Regions from separate parts of the Homo sapiens genome. Here region 2 is linked to region 1. The links come from fine-mapping of genetic effects on gene expression. A gene starts in region 1. The other region holds a variant in brackets. All regions are shown on one strand. Distances are from middle to middle.

What was found. PIP is the estimated chance that this variant, and not a neighbour inherited with it, causes the effect.
Region 2: its variant is fine-mapped to the expression of IRF2BPL in whole blood (TOPMed, PIP above 0.99).

The regions. Positions count from the first base shown.
Region 1 is chr14:77,026,927-77,031,306 of GRCh38, reverse strand. IRF2BPL (interferon regulatory factor 2 binding protein like) reads left to right here and starts at 2,599. Exons shown (of 1, transcript NM_024496.4): 1 at 2,599-4,380. The coding sequence starts at 3,515. LOC107984638 (a long non-coding RNA gene) reads right to left here and starts at 3,839. Exons shown (of 4, transcript NR_190002.1): 1 at 3,496-3,839; 2 at 1,827-2,019; 3 at 1,571-1,646; 4 at 1-1,480. RefSeq lists an enhancer at 1,026-1,546 and silencers at 2,310-2,439, 2,640-2,849, 2,970-3,469.
Region 2 is chr14:77,073,659-77,078,038 of GRCh38, reverse strand. LINC02289 (long intergenic non-protein coding RNA 2289) reads left to right here and starts at 1,848. Exons shown (of 3, transcript NR_110553.1): 1 at 1,848-1,934. RefSeq lists a silencer at 1,699-1,993. The variant T/C (reference allele first, on the strand shown) is at 1,940.

The DNA of each region.
Region 1 (4,380 bases):
TGGGGGTTGGTTATGAAGGTGTATTGGCATAGTACTTACGTAAGATTGTATGTAACACCAAATCAACTGGGGCTGATGGGAATTTTGAGCACCCCAAACCACCTCTGCAAGCCTGAGCTTGTCAAAGACACCTCAAATCAGATTTACTGGATTCAAATCCCAGCCCCATCACTAATGGCTGTAGGCAAGTTATATAGCCTCTTTACTTTCCTGGTTTGTAAAATGGAGGTAAAAGAATCTACCCTGTAGATAATATTAAGGGTTTAATACTGTAATAGGCCGGTCACGGTGGGTCATGCCTGTAATCCCAGCACTTTGGGAGGCTGAGGCGGGAGGATCACCTGAGGTCAGGAGTTCGAGACCAGCCTGGCCAACATGGTGAAAGTCCGTCTCTACTAAAAATACAAAAATGAGCTGGGTGTGGTGGCGGGCGCCTGTATCCCCAGGTACTTGGGAGACTGAGGCAGGAGAATTGCTTGAACCTGGGAGGTGGAGGTTGCAGTGAGCTGAGATTGCGTCACTGTACTCCAGCCTGGGTGACAGAGTGGACTCTGTCTCAAAACAACAACAAAATACTATAGATAATATCCCCTTAATAATGTAGATAATATTAAGGGTGATGCAAGTAAAGCCACCTAGTTTACTAAGGTCCCACGGCAAGTCTAAGTAAGCGTTATCTCTTCTTATGACAAGAAACAAATTGAGGCCGGGTGAGGTGGCTCATGCCTGTAATCCCAACACTTTGGGAGGCCAAGGTGGGTGCATCACTTGGGCCCAGGAGTTTGAGACCAGCCTGGGCAACACGGCAAAACCCCATCCCTTTCCAAAAATACAAAAAAATTGGCCAGGTGTAATGGCACATGCCTGTAGTCCCAGCTACTAGGGAGGCTGAGGTGGGAGGATTACTTGAGCCTGGGAGGTCAGGCTGCTGCCAGCCGCGAGTGTGCCACTGCACTCCAGCCTGGGCAACAGAACAAGATCCTATCTCAAAAAAACAAAAAACCGAAGTTGAAATCTCAAACAACCCTAACAACCTGGGAGCTATCATTCCATTCTCTTTTCCATGGAAAAGAGAGATTTTGTGGGTAACTAGCTTAAGGGTGGAGAGCCAGTTAGTGATGGAGAGGAAATTTCAATCTGGTGGGCCACACTTCAGAATCCGAAATCCCATTATATTGCTTTCCCTTCTCCAGCCTTCCCTGGGATTATCTCAGTTTTCATGAAATAAAAAAAAAAAAAAAAGCAAACCCAATAATTAGAATAATCAATAGAAATGCCCCAACTAGAGCTATGACCAACATATCCATCGTGCCATAAGCAATACTGATGAGCAGTGATCTTGTAAGGCAGAAGAAATCACGGCCTTGGCCGGGCGTGGTGGTTCATGCTTGTAATCCCAGCACTTTGGAAGGCCGAGGCGGGAGGATCACCTGAGGTCAGGAGTTCAAGACCAGCTGGCTAACATGGTGAAACCATGTCTCTACAAAAATACAAAAAATTAGCTGGGCCTGATGGCGGGTGCCGGTAATCACAGCTACTTGGGAGGCTGAGGCGGAAGAATCGCTTGAACCTGCGAGGCAGAGGTTGCAGTGAGCCGAGATCGCGCCATTTTGCACTCCAGCCTGGGCGACAGAGCAAGACTCCGTCTTAAAAAAAAAAAAAAAAAAAAATCACGGCCTTGTTCCGCCTTCTGGGGCAACATGGAGTGAGATCACAGCGCCTGAGAAAGAACTTTGAAAACTGCGGCTGTGCTTTACAAAAATGTATCAGTATTATTAAATGCTGCCTCCACCTTTTAAAAATCAAACTCTAGAAAAAACACTCACCTGTTTGGCCTCTCCGGCCCCTCCCCCTCCCTGCCCTGAACTGCAGCTGTGCGCAGCCAGTTGCCTGTTTTCCTTAAAGGCCTCGGGGTGCTCGTATCTTCTTCAGACGTTCAGCCAAAATTTTTAAAGTGCGGCTGGGGGGAAGGGTAGCGCACTCTGAATTCATTTAGCTCTATCGTTGAAGCCCGGGTTCCTAGATCAGGGCACAAAAACAAATAGAAAAGACAATTTCTGGAAGATTGGAAAACAGCTAATTTTGCAGGTGCTTCGGCATCAGTGGTGGCGATGAATTTAACATCCATGCCGGGGGGGATAAGGTTCAACCGCAGATGAAATGGTTAATACCTTATACGAAATTCACGGCGAAAAATCCTGAAACAGGACATTTAAATTCACTGCCGAGGCTTGGGGGTGGGGTGGGGAGCAGGGATCGGAAACGACGCTAGTGGTTCTTAAATGCGTTTTTACTTGGGAATGCCCGGCAGGGAAAGGAAAGGTCATCGTCTGTTTAATTTCCACCCCCAGCTCTGGACTTCCAGCATTAGCTCGCCGGGCCTCAGCTGTTGTACACACACGGCGAGGGGGGAGGGGAGGGCGGAGGCGCGGAGGAGGGGCCGGCTGGGAGGAATCTGGGCGTCCTGCCGCGCATGCGCCTTGCCTGAGCAACAAGTGGGCTCCACAGAGGAAGTGTAAAGGGGAGGGGGAAGAACTGGTGCAGAGCATGGCGGTGACGTCAGCGCTCCGCCCGGGCGGCATCCCGCGCGGCCAAGCCGGGGACAGCGCGAGCCGCAGCCGGAGCAGGAGCGCCGAGACGCGCCTCCGGAACGTAGAGTAACAATCACAACCCCACATTCCGGGCGAGCGTGAGCACGAGCGGGAAGGGATGCGACCCGGGCCGAGGCGCCGCGCGAGCGCCCTGCAGCCAACGTGAGCGCCGCCAGCCGCGGCGGCCCGGGCGCCGGCCAGGCCTGGGGGCGGCGGGAGCCTGCGTGCGTGCACTCCTCTCCTCTGCTCTCGTGCGTCCTGGAAGCAGTGGCCGCGGCGGCTCCCTCCGGGGTGCAAACCCAGTCGCCGCCAGCAGAACGGCCGACGCTGCGGAGGGGAGAAGGTCCTTTCTCGGCTGCCACCCCCTCCCCCGGTCCTCCGGGGAAGCAGCGGCTTCAGCAAGATTGGACCCGGGCACCGGGTGGCACTGAACCCTCTGGCCCTCGCCCCAGGGGGCCCGTCGGGGAGAGGACGCAGCTCGTAGGGGGGTCCCCGGGGAGAGGAAGAGACAGCCCCTTTCGAGCTTCCACGCACCAGCCACTCCGGGGAGGGGGCCAAGAGGCAACGGCGGCCACCACCGGGCACCCTCGCCCCCTCCCCTCGGGCCGGGAGCTTCCAGCCCAAGTCTGCAGCACCAGGAAGAAGGCGCCTGAGCTCCCCTCGCGACGAGTCAACCGCAGTAGGAGGTGGGGGCGAAGAGAGGGCTGAACCCGTCCGCTGCCCGGGCGGTGGAGCCCCCACGGCGAGGCGCTGCGCCGGCGGTGGAGACTCGCGTTCCCTCCAGCCCCTGGGGCAGAACTTTCTCGCCCCCCCTCCTCCCTCCCCCGCAGTCGGACTCCCTCCCCAGCCGGCCAGTCCTCCCGGAGGAGAAGGCGCCGCGGAGACAGCCCGGGCGGGGGCCTACCTTCCCCAGGGCAGGCATCATGTCGGCGGCGCAGGTGTCCTCGTCCCGGAGACAATCTTGCTACCTGTGCGACCTGCCCCGCATGCCCTGGGCCATGATCTGGGACTTCTCGGAACCCGTATGCCGCGGTTGCGTCAACTACGAGGGCGCTGATCGCATCGAATTCGTGATCGAGACAGCGCGCCAGCTGAAGCGGGCGCACGGCTGCTTCCAGGACGGCCGCTCCCCCGGGCCGCCGCCGCCCGTCGGGGTCAAGACAGTGGCCCTGTCGGCTAAGGAAGCGGCGGCGGCGGCGGCAGCAGCGGCGGCCGCCGCCGCCGCCGCGCAACAGCAACAGCAACAGCAGCAGCAGCAGCAGCAACAGCAGCAGCAGCAGCAGCAGCAGCAGCAGCAACAACAGCTCAACCACGTTGATGGTTCCAGCAAGCCTGCGGTGCTGGCGGCCCCGTCTGGCCTGGAGCGCTACGGCCTAAGCGCTGCCGCCGCCGCCGCCGCCGCCGCCGCCGCTGCGGTGGAACAGCGCAGCCGCTTCGAGTACCCGCCACCGCCGGTGAGCCTGGGAAGCAGCAGCCACACCGCGCGACTGCCCAACGGCCTGGGGGGCCCAAACGGCTTCCCCAAACCAACACCAGAGGAGGGACCCCCAGAGCTGAACCGTCAGAGCCCCAATTCTTCTTCAGCGGCGGCGTCGGTGGCGTCTCGGCGTGGAACGCACGGTGGGCTGGTTACGGGGCTGCCCAACCCGGGGGGTGGCGGAGGCCCCCAGCTCACCGTGCCCCCCAACCTGCTACCGCAGACGCTGCTTAACGGCCCGGCCAGCGCTGCGGTACTCCCCCCACCCCCTCCCCACGCCCTGGGCAGCCGTGGGCCCCCGACGCCTGCTCC
Region 2 (4,380 bases), 47 kb before region 1:
GTGGTAGTGCACACCTGTAGTCCCGACTACTCGGGAGGCTGAGGCAGGAGAATTGCTTGAACCTGGGAGGTGGAAGTTGCAATAAGCCGAGATCACACCATTGCACTCCAGCCTGGATGACAGAGCAAGGCTCTGTCTCAAAAAACAAATAAATAGGCCGGGCGCGGTGGCTCACGCCTGTAATCCCAGCACTCTGGGAGGCCGAGGTGGGTGGATCAAGATGTCAGGAGATGGAGACTATCCTGGCTAACACGGTGAAACCCCGCCTCTACTAAAAATACAAAAAATTAGCCAGGCGCCGTGGCAGGCACCTGTAGTCCCAGCTACTCGGGAGGCTGGGCAGGAGAATGGCGTGAACCCTGGAAGCGGAACTTGCAGTGAGCCGAGATCTTGCCACTGCACTCTGTCTGCCTGGGCGACAGAGCGAAACTCTGTCTCAAAACAAAAAAAAACAAAAACAAAATAAATAAACAAACAAATAAATAAATAAATAAAGAGTGTTAGGAGCCTTCTCTCCTGTAAGCTGTGAACAACTAAGCTTGTTTAGGTCCTGAAATGTCACTGTCATTGTCAGCATGATAAATGCTTTGTGCTGTAATAATACAGAGAAACAGGATGTCTATTCCCCAAAGCCTCTGTGATGGAGAAGGTGGGCTTTCCAGAGGCTCTGACTGTGGAATGTGTCTAGAATCCTCTGCATGTTTTCCAGGTTCACCTCCACACCCTCATCTCTGCTCAGCCGGGTCCTTGCTAGGAGCAGGAACCTGCCTGGTGGGTCTCTGATGGCAGCCCCATGCTCTGCAGACCCCGGACTCTCCGCAGCCCCAGCTCCTGCCTTGTCCTGTTGTCTTCCACCAAGGGGCACCCTTCTTTAAAAAGCTGGACTCTTTTTTTTTTTTTTTTTTTTTTGAGATAGGTTCTTGCTCTATCACCCAGGCTGGAGTGCAATAGTGCAATCACAGCTCACTGCTGCCTCCACTGCCTGGGCTTAAGTAATCCTCCTGCCTCAGTCTCCTGAGTAGCAGGGACCACAGACACACACCAACACTCCAAGCTAATTTTTAAAAATTATTTGTAGGGATGAGGTCTCGCTATGTTGCCCAGGCTGGTCTCAAGCTCCTGGCCTCAAGGGATCCTCCTGCCTTAGCCTCCCAAAGTGCTGGGATTACAGGAGTGAGCCACTATGCCCGGCCCAAGACTGACTCTTAAAAAAGGACAGAGCTAGTCCCAAGCTTGTGCAAGGACAGTGAGAGAGGGGAGACTCAGAAGTAGCCAATTTTTCCCCCAGTAATTAATAAGACATTTAAAGGACTTATCAGGTCACCACAGCTCCATCATCCCTGGGGAATTGTTTGGTTTAGCAGAACTGTTCCCACCCTGCCCCCCTTTGCTTTCTTCTTTCCTTGCCCAGACCCCTCCCCCAACTTAGTTGACGTTGCACAAAGCTTTCAAAAAAACAAGTTTTGTTCCCAGGTCAGCTATATCCTCCCAGGAAGTTTCCCCATCCCAGGGTGAAGTCAGGCCAACACAGGGTGAAGAGTTAGGAGGTCAGGGGCGGGGGAGGGGCGGGTGTTTTGCACGGGACAAGGAGTTCTTTTTTGTTGTTGTTATTCTTTGCGTCATTTCCAGAGAGACAGGAAGGAAAACATAGTAAACATTCTTCAATTCTGCACAAAAGCCGAGAAGGGATTTTCTTCAGGAACCTCCTTGTGGCTCTGCCATGGCGGGGAGGGTTGGGGGTAAGAAATATAAGACCCAATTCCCTGTGGAGGCGGGGATTCGGTGAAACCAATCCCTTGAATGTGGGGTGGAACCAACATGTAACTCAATTTGCTTTGGCTCTCACTGTGCATTTGAGCTAAAGCAAGGGAAGCATTTCCCCTTCCCCTGGCTGAAAGCTCAGCTGACCCCGAGGCTCTTCTGGTCATGCTTAGGTATG[T/C]ACATTTTATGTCACGAAATCCAGTATCGACTTAGAGATTTAAAGCAGCCACCCAAAGATATTAAATGACTCTTGCATTTTTCTTCAAAGAGAAATCTTCTTCCTCCTGCCCTAGTTAAGGCCTTAGTTGGGGGCTGCCAGCTGCCAGGGACTGGGCATGGTGGCTTTTGTCTATTCTCTCCCGAATACCCCTCTCCCCACTTGCTGGTTGCTTTCAGAGTCTAAGTGGAGGTGGTGGGTGAGGATGCAGGGAAGCGGATGGGGAGCAGGGGAATAGGGCAGTTTTTACTTGACTGTATGATTGCCAGCTCTCTGGGTGTGGCAGATGGTGAAAGCTCTTTCTGGAGGGTTCCCTGTGTTCTTCAGAAGTTCCCATCTCAGCCAGGCTTGGTGGCTCACGCCTATAATCCCAGCACTTTGGAAGGCGGAGGCGGGCAGATCACTGGAGCCCAGGAGTACTAGACCAGCCCGAGCAACATGGCTAAACCTCATCTCTACCAAAAATACAAAAAGTATCTGGGGGTGGTGCTGCACGCCTGTAGTCCCAGCTACTTGGGAGGCTGAGGCAGGAGGATTGCTTGAACCCAGGAGGTAGAGGTTGCTGTGAGCCGAGTTTGGGCCACTGGACTCCAGCTTGGGCAACAGAGTGAGACCCTGTCTTAAAAAAAAAAAAAAAAAAAGTTCCCATCTCTAAGGTTTTCTCCTGAAGTTCCCTGTTCTGCACCTCCATTTCAGGTACAGCTATGACTCCATCTTCAACCCCTAGAAATCCAGCATCCTCTTCCAACTTCTTTCTGCTGACATCCCTTTGCCCTTCTCAGAGGCCCTACAGGACTTAAAATGACCCCCACCTTGGCCCTCTCTCCTGCCATGGTCCATCTGATCCACATGTGGCCCATGGGAAGAACTCACACAGCCCCTTCACTCATCCTAATGCAGTCCCTCCTGGCACAGTCCCATGGGGGCCCACAGCTCCAAGTGGCTGCATGGAAGCCCCCATCACTAGGCTTGAGTTGAAAGCAGTAGGGCCCCTAACTCCTTGGTGGGGTAGCTTACAGCATGGCTTTGCCCTTTCTGGAAGTTTCTATTTCCAAACTCTCCCCATTCTCCACACTCTATATTGTTGGTAGGCTGAGGGCCCTGAGTGCTATGCAACTGGTTCCCCATTATTTCCTTTGTAAATACTACATATGGGAGTCTGTCTCATGTTCAGTTTGCTATCTGATGATATTGTGGTAGCCTGCTTCCACAATGGCCCCTCATTGTCCCCATCTCCTGGTATTCACATCATTGTGTCTCCTCCCTCCGTGAACAGGGCCGACCCTTGTAGCCACTTGCTATTGCAGAGCTGATGGCATGCATCTTCTGAGGCTAGGTCATTGTTGTGTGTTTAATGATGTCCCCCAGAAGATATGTTGCAGCCCTAACCCCCAGGGCCTATAAATGTGACCTTTTCTGGAAATAGTCTTCGCAGTTGTAATCAAGGGTTGTTCTTGACTAGAGTGGGCCCTACATCCAATGACTGGTGTTCTCATAAGGAGAGAGAGACAAAGAGTAGACAGACACAAGGGAGAAGGCCGTGTGAAGATGGAGACAGAGATTGGAATGATACAGCCACAAGCCAAGAAACATCTGCGGCCGTCAGAAGTTGGAAGAGGCAAGGAATGATTTATTCTTTCCCACTCATTGTTTCACCAATGAGCACCTTCCATGTGCCACCGTTCTGACCCTGCTGACAATGTGGTTTCAGACTTCTGGCCCCCAGAACTGTGAAAGAGTAAATTTCTGTTAAGTTATCTTGCTTGTGGTACTTTGTTACAGCAGCCCTGTGGATCTAATATAGTCATAAGAGACATTGTGACCTCCTCCCTGCTCTCTTGAACCACTCATTCTGGGAGAAGTCAGCTGCCATGTCATGAAGCTACTCAGGGAGGTCCATGGAGAGGTCCACATGGCAAGGAACTGAGGCCTCCTGCCAGTAGCCAGCACCATCTTGCTGGCCATGTGAGCGTGCCATCTTAGATGCAGATCATACGGCCCCAGTCAAGCCTTCAAATGACTGCATCCCTACTTGACATTTTGACTGTAACCTCATGACAAACCCTAAGCCAGAACACCAGCTAAGCCACTCCCCAATTCCTCATCAAGAGAAACTGAGATAATAAATGTTTATTATTGTTTTAAGCTACTAAATTTTGAGGTAATCTGTTATGTAGCAATAGATAACTAATACTGATATCTGTCATATTGGGGCCTCAGTGTAACTTGGAACAGAAAGAGTTCCATATTATAATTCTTAAACATTACTTGGAATGGTTAGGGGCCCCAGTGCTATTCTCTCTGGGGATATTTCCAGCAATGGGCCCCACAGCCATTTATAGTGAGTTGTCCCACTTACTCTTTCACCAGTGAGCACTTTCCATGTGTCAGATGCCATATTA